Linked DNA regions of Homo sapiens. The protein of the gene in region 1 interacts with the protein of each later gene in a pairwise test. Each region holds a gene or a part of one and is shown on either strand. Other genes may lie near its edges.

Evidence for each region. The genes of interacting proteins can lie anywhere in the genome.
Region 2: the proteins of PKP1 (region 1) and HSF2BP interact in binary tests that used the Homo sapiens proteins (3 or more experiments, as listed by UniProt).

What each region holds. Positions count from the first base shown.
Region 1 is NC_000001.11:201,325,006-201,328,505, reverse strand, and holds part of PKP1 (plakophilin-1), read right to left. Parts: coding exon 3,379-3,500; intron 2,753-3,378; coding exon 2,668-2,752; intron 1-2,667. UniProt on the Homo sapiens protein: A component of desmosome cell-cell junctions which are required for positive regulation of cellular adhesion.
Region 2 is NC_000021.9:43,607,489-43,610,988, forward strand, and holds part of HSF2BP (heat shock factor 2-binding protein), read right to left. Parts: intron 2,502-3,500; exon of another isoform or gene 2,399-2,501; intron 1-2,398. UniProt on the Homo sapiens protein: Meiotic recombination factor component of recombination bridges involved in meiotic double-strand break repair.

The DNA.
Region 1 (3,500 bases):
TCAAGGCGTGAGGATTTAGGCTAGTATTATTTTTTAAACAGAGCAACAATCAAAATCAGATTAGAGAAGCTGTCAATTGTTCTTCCCTCTGACCACCTCTATCTTTTCTTTTTTTAAACAATTCTGACAAGAGCTCTTGGGCAGAGAGGACATGCCCATTGTTTCTCAAACACAGGAGCAGGGGGCTCGCACTGGTAAGAAGCCGCTGTGCTAGAAGGTTCTGTTTACTTGTCTGTTCTTCACCTCCAGCCCCACTAGCCCCTGAGTGCCTGCTGGATGGAGAGTGAGTCTTATTCCTGTTATTTCTCCCAGCATACAGCAGGTGCCCAATACATGCTTCCAAGTGAATGTGGACAGCATGATTTGAATGCAGCAATAGGCCAAGGTGCCCTTGAAAAGAGGGTCCTGCTGCCAGCCCTGAGCTCTGAGAGCCAAGCCAGCCATCACCGACCTGTGGGAACAGGAGGGGAGATGGCATAGGGGATCCGAAACAGCAGCCGGTTCGAAGCCCTGCCCCTCCTGTCTTTGGGCATGTATTACATGATGCCATTTTTCTTCTGCAGATTGGCATGCTCATTCCTGTCGAGCATGGCTCATGCCCTGACTCACTGAATCAAGACAAACTCCTTGGACCCTGATTCCCTATTCAGCAAAATGGACACAAGCCATGTGGCCTGTCTCACCTGTGCTTGTGACAACTCAATGCATGATGGATGTGAAGGCCCTTTGGGAACAGACGCACCAACTAGATCATGCCCAGGATGGTTGTCAAGCATAGCTGGAAGGAGGAGTGGAGACTGAATGGGGACGCTGGTTCCCAAAGGCATGTGTAGAAGGGAATTCCCACCGAGAGCGATGTCAGTGGATTCTCTGTGTGTCTTAGGCCGGGGGTGGACTCTGTGTTTTGGGGTAAGCTGAATGCTTTGGACCACCATTACACAGCGGGAGGAAGCTCACACCAGTCCTCCTTACCTGCCTCCTCGTCTCCCTTTGTCTATCTGGCAGTTGCCATTTGCCAAGCCCATCTTCAATGCAGTGCTGTTGGAAAGGAGCTCTGGATTGTCACATGGAGAACAAGGGCCACCCTTTGCTGTGACCTTCAGATTTCCCCAATCATCTTTGGACACCGTGCGTTCATGAGTCTCCCTATTGTCCCCTGCCATGCTGGAGGAAGAGCTGGGCTTCCTTCTGCCCCACGCTGCTCAACCAATCCCCAGGCTTCCCTGTCCTCCATCCCTGTCTTTCTCCCTTCTTTGCCTACTCCCTCTCCTCCCATGACAGAGATGCTTGAGTCTCCTCTGTCTTTAAACAGATCTCTTTTTACCCACTGTTTTGCTCCTTTTTCTGCAGGCTAAATTGCAGGGAGCAGCATCTCCTCTCAGCAACTCCCCATCCATCCCCATCCACTGCCTTGCCCACTGCAGCAGGCCCCATGGGGCTCCCCTTGCTTGGCCAGCAGTGCTCCTGGACGGCTCCAGAGACTTCCGAAGCACCGGATCCAGGGCCTTTTCCAGTGTCCATCCCCTGGTCCTCTAGGTAGCCCTGGGAACTGCTGCCCTGCCTTCCTTAGAGCTTTCTCTTCTTACCAGGTCTTCAGCCCCTTCTGGCACCCTGCACAGTTCCTCTTTTCCCTGGCCTTTCCTCCTTCTTGTCCCCAGCAGATGGTCTTCATATTTCTGCCCTGTCCTTCAAGACTTTTCCATACACATGCAACCCATGGTGGTCTTGCCTGTTCTCATGGCTTCGCCTGCCTGAACAAAGCTCCACTCTGTATGGTAGCTCTGGCCCCTCTGCCAGGGCCCACACCACCTCCAGCCTGGACTCCCATCCAAGTCTTCCAAACTCAACCTCTCCAAATTGGGACCCCTCTTACTCCCACCTAAAAGCCTTCTCAGGCTCTCCTCATCTGATGTGTCTTTATGAATATAACCATAGTCTCCAAGCTAAAAGCTCCAGCCTAATCAGCCCCACTGCTCCATTTCTTCCACCTCCTGTCCTTTATGTCCATGCTTATCACTGAGGAATGGGAAAGAAGAGGCCATGTGAAGATGTCATACAACAAGACCTTATACCCTAGAGGACTCTGTACCTGGCTAGCTGGGGAGGGGTGGAGGACAGAGAGGAGGCCAAGGTCACCACAGGACAAGGACAGCAGCCTCCAGGCTTCTCAGCCCACTCTGCCTTGCTCACAGGGTGAGCTTTGGTGCTGCTTTGATCATGAAACCCTCTATTCAAAACTTTGAATGGTTCCCCAGTGCCAAAGGTACAAGTCCAAGCTCTTCAGTTTGACATTAGAAGGGTTTTGTAACCTAGCCCACACCTACTTTTCTAGCTGGAGTGAACCCCATGCCCTCAAAAGACTTGTGTGCTTTTTGTCCACTCTGTTTTTCAGTTTGCTCCTAAAGGATCCCACCCCAGGCCTCTCACACATTTCCTTGATTTCCTCTGCCCTCCATGTTCTCAGCATCCCTCGCAGATCTCAGAGCCCAGAGACTTGATCAGAACGTTCATCACATTCATTTTCACGTAGACGCTGTCTTTGTCTCTCAGACTGTCCCGAAGGGCAGGGGCGTTTCTCTAGTGCCCAGCCCAGAGCCCAGCATATGCCAGGCCCTCTGCTCATGAGCAGGAAGAACCTCAGAAGAGGATGATGTCCTGGGCTCTTACCTGTCTGAGGACACCCTGCAGTTCCTTGCTGGACCACATGTCAGACAGGAGAAGCCGGGCAGCTTCTGCGGCCTTGGGTGAGGCACTGGGCAGGTGAGAAGTGCATTTGTGAGATGAGATTCCAGGAGGTGTGAGAAGGAGCACCCTCTTCCCTCCCACCCCCACTGCCAGGGCCTGGACACAGGGGAGGCCTCAGAGGAGGCCTCAGGTGTGCAAAAGAGAGGAGCCCCATTGGGGTGTGGTGAGCCTGGTCACCCTACCCAGTGGGCACAACCCCATGCCCCTGCCCACCTAGAGCACCCCAGGACTCTCCTCAGGGGCCATGAGGTGGCAGTGCTCTTCCACTCCAGTCCCCAGCCTTGTCCGGGGAAGAGAGAGCCCCACAGAGCAGGATAAAGTCCCTATTCAGTTGGACCTGCTGCCCCATGCCTCCTGCTGGCCCTCTGAGGACCTTGTGCCCCCGAGTCCCCCAGCCAGGAAGTGTGTTGCCTCTTCCCTCCATGCAGCCCTGGGGCCTGGATGCTGGACCCTTCTCTCCACGCACTCTCGGCTTCTGGAACTTCTCCTCCATTCAAGCCTCCCCCGTCCCTGGCTCCCCCTGCCCTTGGTGCTTCCCCTACTCCATGGAGAGCTGCGGGACTGCTTCCTGCTGTGCAGGGTGAGGAGGGGCTCTGATTGGGGTGCAGCCCGTGGGAGCAACCCCCCGCCCACCTGCTTCGGCACAGGTTGATGATGTTGTTGAGCATGCTGCTGGAGAAGTACTGCTTGGCCAGTTGTGGCTGCGAGGCCATCAGGTTCCTCACAGTGTAGCAGGCCGAGGACAAGATGTCTTC
Region 2 (3,500 bases), on another chromosome or scaffold:
AGAATCAATATCATGAAAATGTCCAAACTGCCCAAAGCAATCTACAGATTCAATGCTATTGCTATTAAATTACCAACATCATTTTTCATAGAATTAGAACAAACTCTTCTAAAATTCTTATAGAACCAAAAAAGAGCCCAAATAGCCAAAGCAACGCTAAGAAAAAAGAACAAAGCTAGAGCCATCACACTGCCCACCTTCAAACTATACTACCAGGCTACACTAACTAAAACAGCATAACACTGGTACAAAAATAAACACATAGACCAATGGAACAGAATACAGAACCCAGAAATTAAAGCTGCACACATACAGCCAATTGACCTTTGACAACATTGACAAAAATAAGCAATGAGGAAAGGACTCCCTGTTCAATAAATGGTGCTGGGAAAAATAGCTAACCATATGTAAACGAATGAAACTGGACCACTACCTCTAACCACAGATAAAAATTAACTCAAGATGGATTAAGGACTTAAATGTAAGACCTCAAACTATAAAAGTCCTAGAACAAAATCTAGGAAATAGTCTTCTGGATATCGGCCTAGGCAAAGAATTTGACTGAGTCCTCAAAAGCAATTGCAACAAAACCGAAAATTGACAATTGGGACATAATTAAAATAAAGAGCTTCTCCACAGCAAAAAAAACTATCAACAGAGTAAACAGACAACCTACAGAATGGGAGAAAATATTCGCAAACTATGGATCCAACAAAAGTCTAATATCCAGAATCTATAGGGAAGTTAAGTTAAACAAATCAACAAGAAAAAACACACAACCTCATTAAAAAGCAGGCAAAGGGCAAGAACAGACACTTCTTAAAAGAAAACATATAAGCAGCCAACGAAACATGAAAAAATGCCCAACATCACTAGTCATCAGGGAAACGCAAATCAAAACCACAATGAGGTACTATCTCACACCAGTCAAAATGGCTATTACTAGAAAGTCAAAAAACATCATGTTGGCAAAACCACTGAAAAAAGGGAACTCGTATACACTGTTGGTGGGAATGTAAATTAATTCAGCACCTATGGAAAGCAGTCTGGAGATTTCTCAAAGAACTAAAAACAGACCTAGCATTCAACCCAGCAATCCCATTACTTGGTAAATAGCCAAAGGAAAATAAAATTGTTCTACCAAAAAGACACCTGCCCTTATAAGTTTATCACAGCACTGCTCACAATAGCAAAGATAAGTGGTGGCTCATGCCTGAAATCCCAGCACTTTGGGAGGCTGAGGTGAAAGGATCACTTGAGTTCAGGAGTTCAAGACTATCCTGGGCAAGAAAGTGAGACCCCTATCGCTACCAAAAAAAAAAAAATTTTTTTTAATTAGCCAGGCATGATGTCACATGCCTGTAATCCCAAGTACTTGGGAGGCCGAGGCAGAAGGATTGCTTGAGCCCAGGATTTTCAGACTGCAGTGAGATAAGATAGCACCACTGCATGCCAGTGTGAATGGAACAGCCAGACCCTGTCTCAAAAACAAAACTAAACAAAACAAAAATAGCAAAGACATAGAATCAACCCAGGTGTCCATCAACAGTGGATTGGATAAAGAAAATGTGGTACATACAAGCCATGGAATACTTCGCAGCCAGAAAGAAAGACCACCACCATGTCCTTTGCAGCAACATGGATGCAGCTGGAGGCTGCCTCCACTTATCTTAAGTGAATTAATCCAGAAGTAGAAAACCAAATATTGCATGTTCTCATTTATAAGTGGGAGCTAAACCCTTGGTATACGCGGACATAAAGATGGGAACAAGAGACACTGGAGACTCCAAAAGGAGAGAGGGAGGGAGAGGAACAAGGACTGAAAAATCTCCTATTGGGTACTATATCTACTATCTGAGTGACAGATTCAACAGAAGCCCAAACCTTGGCATCACGCAATATACTCTTGTAACAAACCTGCACATGTACCCCCTGAATCTAAAATTTAAATTTAAATTTTTTTAAAAAATGGGCAACTAGGAAAAAAATAACCCCTATCTCTGGGTCTAAGGTACTAACTGCTGAAAATGAGTGACCTTCGATCATGAAAGTGGCAGTGAAAGTGTAGTTCCCCAGAGAGAGGCAAGCTATACACAAGGCAGGGGGAGGCCAGGAAGAAAAGAGGCTGATTTATAGTATGAGAAAGGTCTTGGGGCTCCAGAGGACTCAAGGGTGGGCGTTAGTGAAGTGGGGGAGGTGAAAAGAGGGGAGAAGAGTGCCTTGGAGATGTGGTGAGACGGAACAAGCCATGAGCATGTTGGAAGGCAGCCAAAGATCCCAGGGGGAAGGCCCCTCTCAGGCTGGTGCATGCTGAGATCCCGAGTCAGGATAGAGGGTAAACACGCGGCTTTGCTCAGTGGCCAAATGGAAGACTGCCAAGAAAGTCAGTGAATGGCTCTGAAGGCAATTCTCCCCATCTCCCACTGCAATCAACAAGAGCTCACCAGGACCCAAAGGCACAGAGCTCCAGGGACTGGAACCGGAGAGGCTAGAAGTGACCCAGCCCTCACACACAGCTTTGCCTTGGAAGTTGAAGGGGGACTTTAGCTGGCCCATAAATATGGACCTTGTACAGACCACAGAAGCAAAAGAGGCAATGGATTAGTATCCAGAACACACAAAGACCTACAGCAGATCACTAAGAAAAATGCAGCCCAACAGGAAAGTGGGCACAAGACACAGACAGGTGACTCAAAGGAAAAACTGGAATGGTACAAACATGTGAAGAGCCTCAACCTCACTGGCAATCTAAATCTGAAGGAAGGGAGAGAAGGACAAAGACAGACAGATGATAGGTGGATGATAAAAATACTCTTTAAGGCCAGGTCCAGTGGCTCACGCTGTAATCCCAACATTCTGGGAGGCTGAGGCAGGTGGATCACTTGAGCTTAGGAGTTTGAGACAAGCCTGGGCAACAAGGTGAGACCCTGTCTCTACAAAAAATACCAAAAAAAAAAAAAAAATTAGCTGCGCATGGTGGCGTGCAGAGTAGCTGGGACCCCAGTTACTTGGGAGGCTGGGATGGGAGGATCACTTGAGCCCCAGAGGTCGCGGCTGCAGTGAGCCGTGATTGCACCACTGCACTCCAGCCTGGGTAACACAGCAAGACCCTGTCTCTCCCCCTCTTCCCCCGGCACCTCTCTCTCCATATACACATATATTTTTTCTCTTTAGAGGAATATAATAAATAGCAAAGTGCTGACAAGGACGTGGGAAACACGAACACTGACATGGTGCAGGTAGAAATGTACACTATGGTGACCAATTTGGCAGTATCTTATCAAATTGAAAATGTCCATGTACTACTTCTCAAATATTTCCTCTGGGAAAACTCCTGGAGAACTCTCAGACAGGTTAGCAAAGAGTTTATCAAGGATGCTCACTACGGCATTATATTTGTCAAGTAAAACCCGAAAGTAACTTAAATGCCCATCAGTCAGGGAAGGATAATCCAAATATTACATCTCCTTTGATGCAAGGTACTTAAAAGGAATGAACTA